Homo sapiens: one gene and its partner. The protein of the gene in region 1 interacts with the protein of each later gene in a biochemical or structural test. Each region holds a gene or a part of one and is shown on either strand. Other genes may lie near its edges.

Evidence for each region. Proteins that work in one complex are often made in the same cells at the same time.
Region 2: the proteins of PKN2 (region 1) and PDZRN4 interact in a test that uses a peptide from one of them, tested with the Homo sapiens proteins (one large-scale study listed by IntAct).

The regions. Positions count from the first base shown.
Region 1 is NC_000001.11:88,689,849-88,695,183, reverse strand, and holds part of PKN2 (serine/threonine-protein kinase N2), read right to left. Parts: intron 3,461-5,335; exon of another isoform or gene 3,404-3,460; intron 1-3,403. UniProt on the Homo sapiens protein: PKC-related serine/threonine-protein kinase and Rho/Rac effector protein that participates in specific signal transduction responses in the cell.
Region 2 is NC_000012.12:41,505,571-41,510,905, reverse strand, and holds part of PDZRN4 (PDZ domain-containing RING finger protein 4), read right to left. Parts: intron 4,451-5,335; coding exon 4,194-4,450; intron 1,096-4,193; coding exon 993-1,095; intron 1-992.

The DNA of each region.
Region 1 (5,335 bases):
ATTTTAAATTTGCATTATAAAGACGTCTGACAGACATTTCAAAATTTTTTTTTTTTTGAGATGGAGTCTCGCTCTGTCGCCCAGGCTGGAGTGCAGTGGCGCAATCTCGGCTCACTGCAAGCTCTGCCTCCCGGGTTCACGCCATTCTCCTGCCTCAGCCTCCAGAATAGCTGGGACTACAGGCGCCCGCCACCACGCCCGGCTAATTTTTTGTATTTTTAGTACAGACGGGGTTTCACTGTGATCTCTCGATCTCCTGACCTCATGATCTGCCCGCCTTGGCCTTCAAAATGTTTTTAAACATTAAAATAACTCAGACCTATCTCCATATTCAAAAATCAATGCTATTAAATAAACAGAAATGAGATACCATGATACACTTATTAGAATGACCAAAATCCAGAAAACTGACAACACCAAATACTGGAGATGGTGTGGAACAACAAAAACTCTTATTGTTGGTAGGAATACAAAATAGTTCGGGCACTCTGGAGGGCAGTTTGGGAGTTTCTTACAAATCTAAATATATTCTTACCATACAATTGGACACCCTGGTATTTAACCAAAGGAGTTGAAAAGTTGCATCCACACAAAAACTTGCATAGGATGTCTATAGCATTTTATTCATAACTGCCAAAACAGAAGCAACCAAGATGTCCTTCAGTAGGTGAATGAATAAACTAAGGTACATACAGACAATGGGATATTATTCAGTACTAAAAAGAAATAAGCTATCAAGCTATGAAAAGACATGGAGGAAAATTAAATGCTTATTTCTAAGTGAAAGAAACCCATGTAAAATGGCTACACACTGTATGATTCCAACCGCATGAGATTTTCCCAAACGCACAACTATGGAAACTGTAAAAAGATCAGTGGTTGCCAGGGGATGGAGGAGAGGGAAGGATGAATAGGTAGAACACAGAGAATAAGCTTAGTGCAGGGACACTATTCTGTATACTATAATGCTGGATACATGTCATTATACATTTGTACAAACCCATAGAATGCACAACACCAAGATGTGTGCACTCTGGGCTCTGGATGATGATGATGTGTCAATATAGGTTCATCAACTGCAACAAATGTACTCTTGTGGAGGATGTCGATAATGCATATGTACATATGTAGGGACGCAGTTATTTGAGAAATCTCTAGACCTTCCTCTCGATTTTGCTGTGGACCTAAAACTGCTTTAAAATATGAAGTCTATTAAAAAACAACAAATCCAGATAAACTGACTTAAATCTAAAAAATAAAACTGCAAGATTCTTAGGAGCAAACTTGGGTAGCTATCTTTTAAACCCAGGATAGGGAATAATTTATTTAAAAGGGCATGAAAAGCAATTACAGTAAGTCCTCACTTAACACTGCTGATAGGTTCTTGGAACTGAGACTTTAAGAAAAACAATGTGCTTCAGGTCCTTTAATAATGCTGTTTCGCTCAATATCATTTCTTTTCTTTCTTTTTTTGAGACAGGGTCTCACTATGCTGCCCAGGTTAGAGTGCAATGACACGATTCCAGCTCACTGCAGCCTTAACTCTTGGGCTCAAGTCATTCTCTCACCTCCACCTCCAAAGTAGCTGGGACTACAGGTGTGCATCACCACTTCTGGCTAATGTTTCATTGTTTATAATATCATTTCCTTAGAACACTGATGAGAAAAAAGAAACTGGTTTCATTATAAGTTATTTTGCTTAAAGTCAGTTTCCAAGAACCCGTCAATGACATTAAGTGAGGACTTACTGTATGATAAACAATGGACAAATTTGACTTAAGAATTTTTTTTATCAAAAGATGCACAGCAATGACAAAAACTGTATTTAGGATTCCGAGTTTGTAAACTTCTGAACTAGTAAACTGTTCAGAAGATTAATATTTTGCTTTATATCCAGTATTAAATCTGATCAACTCCAGCATTTTAATGGCAAGCTATGAAAATACCTAAATAACTGACTCACATAATCTTACGGAATATACTGCCCTTTAAACAAAAGAATAAAATATTATTAATGACTAATAATAAGTAGTTTGCAACAGAGAGGTATGGAATTGGAAAATAAGCAACTGATGAAGTGTATGTATAATTTTTGCTATTTCTTTGCTTCTGAATTTACTCATTAACTAAATCAACCTAGCATTTGGGTGCCTAGCATGTGTGAAGCAATACAATATTTTATACAACTTCCTATGGCTGTTCATTTGGATAGTTTACAAATCCCCAGGCCATAAACTATTAATATAACTTTACCCTTTCTATACCAAATGTACAATAGATATTAAATACAAGCCTGTTGATGATAACGATGTAAATTATTCCAAATATTTGCCAAAGAAGGTAGAGGCATTTAAAACTGTCCCTCCCACACAACTCCATAAAAGAAAGCGAAAAAGTTAGGAACTGAAAGAAGACATTCACAATGTACACAGAGGATTAACATAAGCAATATAAAGAACTCTTATAAACTAGTAAGAAAAACAAAAATAGGCAAGAGACATAAATAGGAATTTCACTGAAGAAGCCACGTAAAAAGGCCGACAAACATAAAAAGAAGTGTTCTACATCAGTGATAACCAGGAAAATGCGCATCAAGACCACAATAAGGCAACATTTTACACCCTTATGATTTGTAAAACTTAAAAAGAGAATATCAAGTGTTGGAGAGGATGGATAACCAAAGGATCTTTTATTTCATATATTGCTAATATGAATATAAATTGGTGCAACCATATTGAAAGTTCTGCATCATCTCTTAAGTTGAACATTCACCTACCCTGTGAGGCAGCAATGCTACCTCTAGGTATATAATAGGAACTGTGGCACATGCACAGTAGGAAACATGCAGACTGTCCATAGGATCTTTGCTTATAATTACAAACAAAACAAAACAAAAAATGGAAAATAACTGCCCAACAAGGGAGAGTGGATAAATATCCAAATATCCACCAAAGTAGAGTTAATGAATATTTTACTCAATGAAATATTATATAGCAATTTAAATAATGACTATAGCAACATGCAAAAATGTGGATAAATCTTATTTATAACAGGTGAAAAATCAAGTTCAAAAAGATTATATTCACAATTCTATACAAACAACTAAAAGATGTTTAGATTTATATGTCCAACTAAACTATACACAGTAGTCTCCTTTTATCCACCGAGAGACCTTCAGTAAATGCCTAAAACCACGAACAGTACTAAACTCTATTTACACTTTTCCTTTAACATACATACTTATGCTAAAGTTTAATTTATAAATTAGGCACAGTAAGCAATTAACAATAACTAATAATAAAATAGAACAATTATAACTATACTGTAATTACAGTTATGAGTGTGGTTTCTCTCAAAGTATCTTAGTACTTATAAATATCTTATAGTACTATACTGTACTCACCTATTTTTGGACCACAGTTGACCATGGGTAACTGAAACCGTGGATAAGGAGGGACTACTATATAAGGAAGAGAATGAACACAGGACTCAAAAATGATGACCTAGATGACAAGAAGGTGGAAATAGACGGATAGAATAGAGGAAAACTATACGTAGGTTAAAGTTCCTAGCTTGTTTTGAGAGAGGGGGAGTGGTGGTCCATGAGTACTTATTAAAATGATTGACAGACAGATAGGTGATTAATCCAATGCAGTGTGCCTGATGTTTAACAAATTTTTTAAAAATCCAAAAGTTGCATAAAATTTGTTCAATGAAAATTCTGAAATGGAGAACAAACACCTCCTTAAAGAATCCCTAAGGTAGCAACTACAGGGAAGGGAAAACAGTATGATTAATGTGTAAAATATATGATACTCAGGCCAGGCACAGACGCTCACATCTGTAATCCTAGCACTTTGGGAGGCCAAGGCAGGTGGACTGCTTGAGTCCAGCAGTTCAAAACCAACCCGGGCAACATGGCAAAACCCCGTCTCTCCAAAAAAATATAAAAATCAACCATGCATGATGGCTCACACCTATAGTACCAGCTACTTGGGAGGCTGAGATGGGCGAATCACTTGAGCCCAGGAGGCAGAGGCTGCAGTGAGCCGAGATCACGTCACTGCACTTCAAGCTGGGTGACAGAACGAGATCCTGTCTCAAAAATAAAAATAAAAATAAAATAAATAAAAAACTCTCAGCACATGTATTGTGTGGTATGTCTTCTATAATCAAAAATAAATTCCAAATTTTGTCATAACTACATTCCATTAAATTAAGGTACTTATGAGCCAGGGCAGTAAAACTTTCACCAATTTGATAAGTCACTGACAAATTTCTAAAAGAGATAAATCCTAACAATATTATGTAAGTCTTGTATATCCACTCATCTTTATGAGGCACTTCAACACTACCTTCACATTTAAGGTGTTTACTGTCATCAAGTACACTGTCCCATGCTTTCTTGATCTTCATTTTTTACAGGCAATATTTATGTATATAATGTTACACAAATTTCATTTTTGTGATTGCAAAAAAAAACCAAGTATGATAATAGAGCTAGTTTCAAACAAGATTTCATCAGATAAAATTAAGACAAGCTAGACATGCATCAAGATAAAGATTCTCTATTTCTGTTTCATTAAGGAATTACTTTTTCATTAGTATATTTTTCCCACTCTAAATTTTAAATCTTTTTAAAGCTTTTAACTAGTTTTCAACTTTGCTGTCAAGTTTGAACTCTGCTGTATATCAAAAGTTGATCATATTAAATGTCATATACTGTAGAGTAAAATTGGCTTTTGAAATAATATAGACATTTGACAATTATCAGCACAGTATATTTTATGAGGGAATAATGTAGAATTAACTGTTTTATTCAAATACCATTTATGGTATGAAAGTAACATTATTTTAGGTGATGTTTACAAACTACTACTTTATTTGTTTAAAAGTAAACATGCTTCTGATGAATGGCATGAAAATTTACCATTGCCAAATTCAAAAAGCAGAAATAAGAGAGCCCAAGGAATCAGATGCTAAGCTCTGGGATAAAGAGATGATGTCTAAAAGGTGCCCCTACTTGTCCCTATTTCAACACTATGTGAATGGTAGGAATTGCATGATACTAGACCTAATCTCTATTACACTAATGAGAGATGACAAAAAAATCCATTTTAGAGCCATCATTTAGTAACACTAGTTTTAACACAGACTTTTATCTTGGTAGTCAAGAAATATTTGGAAAGTTATTTAGTATGTTTAATTCAGCAAAGTATGCGCTGCAAATTACAAACATTGTGGTAGTCTATAAGAGCAGCAACAATCAAACCTAAGCCGGAAAAACACACTGTATTGCTATATTATTCAAAGAAATTGTTGCTATACTTCATTA
Region 2 (5,335 bases), on another chromosome or scaffold:
TACCAGTTGTCATTTCACATCCTTCTAAATTTTGGCTGCAAAGAAATAATGATTTCTGTAATCCCCAGGAATGACTTTTGTGGGGAGAAGATTTCAAACAAACGTCCATTTGCTTTAGATGAGCTTCCTTATTTGATTTCAGATCCTCCTAAGGGAAGAGATTTCAGGATTTCCTGGTTGTAAAGTGGAAGAGAACACTTTGCTGAACTTGTATGACATCACCTGAAGCATTAAAAGGGCAGGTGACCATGGGTTCTCTGCCTGTTTACCAAAGCTTCTTTACTTCCTCAATCTATTTTATTTTTAAATGTCAGAGTAGTCTGAAACCTTTCAAAGATATTCAGGCTGCAGAAGCAGAGGAAATATTAGGATACATTCTTTAACTTTTGTGAGAGCTTTTAAATAATCAATGGATGGACTTTTCGAATTGTTATATATCACAGTACAGATATTCTGACATTAAACCATGTGAAGAATAAATATAGTTTAACAACAAAGGGCATGAGGCCATCTCTATTTCTAGGAAGTCTGTGAAATGGCTCTTTAGAGTACAGACCAGAGGCACAAAGAGAGTATTGCATTTCCAAAGAATACAATATAATAAAATTTAGTTTATCAATGAAAATTAGAATATTATACAACAAATGAAAATAGTAAACACAATCTTTGTTTTAAATATATTTTTCAAACTCCACTTGGAAATCCACATATATTATAGAACAGATTTTAAAAATGTAGCTGTTGCAATATTATTTATTAAAAAGCAACAAAATGAGAGCAAATTATATTTAAGCTTATACTATAAAAATATTTTCCAATATACTTAAAACACGAGAGCCACATAGCTAAAGCAAATAGTATTTGAAAGATCTTACACTGGATATGTAATAGACAAGACATTTCTCACTGTAATAAATTAATTTCTTTGTTATACAAAACCCCTCAACCGTAACTTCATGAAGAAATGTGAAGTGGTATGAAAATGACCTTACCTCATATTCAAAGTCTTCTGTTCTGTCTGCATCAGCAGGCAAGCTGGAAATATACTCATTGTCCTCATAAAATTCATGCTCCATTGGATGTAGAGAATGGCAGCTATGGGGAATGTAGCAATATGATAGGAATAGATTAAATGGGTTGTTTTCCAGATTAAAACTGATTTTAGAATTTCACTTTAGTTTGCTCTGCTTTGGAATAAGATCTGTAGTGATCTAGTCTTTAAACAAACTACAGCTGAGGAAAAGCAATAGCTTTTCTTTCTCCCTCTACGTGAAGTCCATCAATTTGCAATTTCTGAGAGAATGCTAGGAATAAGGGCCTATGGTCAGAGTTGTATTCTGTGGAAAGACTGATGTGAAATCTCTGACAGTCCGTGGTGCTTTATTGATACTTTCTGGCCTGCTTCCATTCCACTGAATGTGACAAGCTCCATACGTGGGTGTGTGGCATTTGAGATTGCAGTCTACTCAAAGAGGGGTATTTTGTCATAAAGTACTACCAATTTCATAATCCACAGCTGCAAACTATTTTTTGAAAACCATTTTCAAAAGCACTTATTTTTTCAGACTCTAAAATGTGCTCACATTGTCCCCTCCTCTCTTTCTTAAGATCCCCCTTTCTCACTCTCCCTCATAATGCACATTTTCCCCTCTTTGATCAAGGACATATACACAAATATTAAAGAACATTCATGGCGATCAATCAGTGGAAACTCCTATAAGCCACAAGGTTTCAAAATACCTTTAGAAAATTCTCAGTGACAGAGAGAGCAGATTACATTAAGGAAATGAGAGGATATGGCTTTTATGTATTTCAACTTTTAGGAAATTTTTAAATAGTTTGTAAACATGTTATTCGATTTAGTATGTTCTGATATAAAGACTACACATCATACCATATGAAGACTAAGCATAGTTTAACAGCAAAGAGCATAAGGCCTTTTCTATTTCTAAAAGACACTGAAAAAGCCTAAATACAATTGACAAGTTGGTTGCAGATGAGACCTCTAACTCCTGCCAGTGTGGATCTTTTTGAAAAATTGGAGATAGCAGTATCAATTAGTTCCCTTCTCCCTTGTTGAAAGGCAAGAGACCCATCCTCATGCCCTCATACTATAGTCAGCGTAAATATTCTACCAGCCTCTCCTCACTACTATCTATGGCTGTCAGCTCCACACAGGTCTAACTAGTGTAGGCCAAAATGGTAAAAGTAATACAGGCAGCACCTTGCCTTGTGTCTACCAGATAAATCTCCTTGCTTATAGCTGGACTGGGTCCGCATAGCCCTTTTGGGCTCTTGGAATATCGAAGCCTGCTGCTTTGGACATCTGATGTGTTTCCCTTGTCTTTCGGATAGTAAGAAGGGAGCCCTGCTGTGAGGAACACTTTATTCATTCGACGTTTATTTAGTGGCTGCCAGATGCAAGGCCAAGTGCTGGAAATATGTTGGTTTACAAAATCCAATTCTGCCCTATTAATTGGGGAAAGCAGCAAAGTGGGAATTTTAATACAGTGCAATAATTAAGGGAAAAATACAGGAGCCTTGGGAGCACATGGTAGGGGTGGACCCACTGCAGCCCTAGGAAGTTTTCTAGAGGAGGTTGTCTCTAAGCTAAGGTCTGCAGGACCTAGGAAGAGCAGCAAGATGCACTGGCTAAGGGGGTAGGCATTGGGGTCAGACCTCTTAGGCCTAGAAGCCTGGCCCTGTCACTTTTTTGCTATGTGATCTTGGCCATGTTACTTAATATCTGTTCCCTCATCTTAGACATAGAATGTTGATAATATAATGTACTCCCTCCTAAGATTATTGTGAGAACTAAATGAGTCAATAAATGCAAAACGTTTGGAATAATACTGAAAGCATGTTAAGTTAGCTAATACAAGCTAGCTATTATTATTCATTCAAGGAAGTATTTGTTGGATGGCTACTATGTTTTAGGCTGTATTAATGAATATTATATATTTGTTTCCTTGCTTTTTGTTCAACTCCCCTTGTAGAATATAAACTCTAGAAGGCAGTGACTTTATTTTTGTTCATAGTTTTATGCCAAGCATCTAGTTGCAAGCCCTGACACATCCAATTTGTGTCTGATACAAAGGGCTATTTAAAATAAAGAGATACCCAAGACAAACAGATCCCCTGCCTTCCTGGAACTCGAAGTCTCAAGAAGTGTTTTCAAAACTTGGCTGCACATTAGGATTGCCTAGGGAGACTTTTGAAAATTTCTGATGCCTAAGCCTTACTCTAAGAATTCTCATTTAATTGGCCTAAGGAGTGATTCAGGTACTGATACAGCTTCTGAAAGTTCCCAGGTGATTCTATTGTACATCTGTGACCCACTGAAACGGGCTTATGGGAGCCAGCCATCAAAGGGCAGGAAAGTGGCATGACTCAGATCTTTGTTTTATGAAGTAGAGAGCGGATTGGAGTAGGTGATGAAAATGCAGGCTAAGGAGACTATTGCTCTTACAAACTCTCAATGTTTGAATATTTGCTCGAAAGCTCACAGAACACAATGAATTGGGCAAGCATACTTTTAAAACTGTTCAAGTAGGATTATTTGAATAAAATCTCTCTGACTTCCTTTAAATTAGGCAAAAATCAGGAGGAAGTATTCCTTGAATAGATCTTTATTTGATAGCACTATACTTACTCTCTGACAGCCAAGATCCTTTGTTTATATCTCAATATATTGGGTAAGTGCTTTCGTCAGAGAATTGCACTTTAATTAAATCAATTTCCTAGCTTCTCTTTAAAGAAGAGAAATGCAAGGAAGAGAGAGAGGTGGCCCACAGAGGAGAATGTGGTGCCAAGATGCCACTTCCACATGAGTCTTAATAAGGTTTTTGGCAGCTTTGGTGAGAAAAGTGATTTCCCTGACCAGTGTTCATGAGTAGCATGAGGCTTTTGACAGCTAGTAATATGAAGATGAACTAATCAGAGCCAGAATTTTTCACAGCAGCTAGCAAGTATGATTACCCAGGTGGAGCAACCATGTGGGTCAGGGAGAGTAGCTAGCAGGGACCACTGAGAACTAATTGCACATATCAAAACAGGGGAGACATTTTCCAAACGGAGCTGGGAAGCCTGTCTCCATAACTGTCAACCTGCTAGTGGAACTGCTTCTTTTCAACATCTGCTTTACGTGACAAATGGAAACAAACAGGGCTTTGGAAGAAATGATAGAAAAATACCTGTCTGAGAGCAGGAATGGACAGATGTCTGGCACTGGAGGGGTAGGTGGACGAAGCTTGGCCAGAGCCATGATGTGTTCGAAGGTGATGTCCGTCTGAGTGCTGGCATTCATAAGCTGCACTTCTGAAGCCATCCCATAGGCTGGTCTACTAAGAGGTGTTCGCCTTAACACCTGCACCACAATGGGCTCCTTGGCATTGCGAAAAGCTTCCACTGCCTCTTCATGAGTGGCCTTTGAAAGATCCTTCCCATTGACCTACAAACATATAAGGACATTGTTCATCTCAGAGGAAAGATCAGAGAGGCTGTCATGATAGATTAATAAAAGACAGAGAGAAAGGTTTCAACCAGCCCTGATATGAATTTTGTAATGGAATATTTAATCAGATATTAATATTTACTGAAGTCTTTACCAACATGATGAAGTACCTGAGATTACAACAACAATTACTTCTGTATCTTTATAAAGTATCTGGAGTTGGTTAACTAGTAAAACAGCAGAACTATTAGCAAAGATTTAAAAATTTAAGTAACACATCTGCTTCAGAAAAGGGTCACCGAAGTCTTCAGATAGTTAGAAATGTTAAGTATATCCTACTTTTTCATGATCTATCAATCTCTCGGTGAGATTTTCAATATTTAATCAAGGTCTTACTTGCCTAAAATTTAATTTTTTAAGATATTGTCAAATTTCCTCCATATTCATAATGTTTTAATCCAAGACCATGTTATTGCCCATGTGCATTTTATCCTAAATCCTCACTGTTTGAAGTGTGGTCTGTGAACTAGCAGCATCAGCATCACATGAAAGATTATTAGAAATACAGAATCCCTGGCACCACCCTGGACCCACTGAATCAGAATTGGCATACTCACAAGATTCCGGCTTTATATTTATATTCACTGAAAGAAGCAATGCTCTAAAATTCCTCTGAATGGGTATATTATGTCCCTCTAGATACTCACTTGTTTTAATTTCTACCAATTCATGACTCTCCAAGGTAGCCCTGGACATTACAGAGAAAGAGGTGAAGTCTCCCTTTGTCCTCAGTCATTGCTTTTCAACAGGGGCAGAAACCATTGGCATTTGGGAGAGAAAAATTATTCTTTTTGTGGGACTCTCCTATGCCAGCTTACCAAG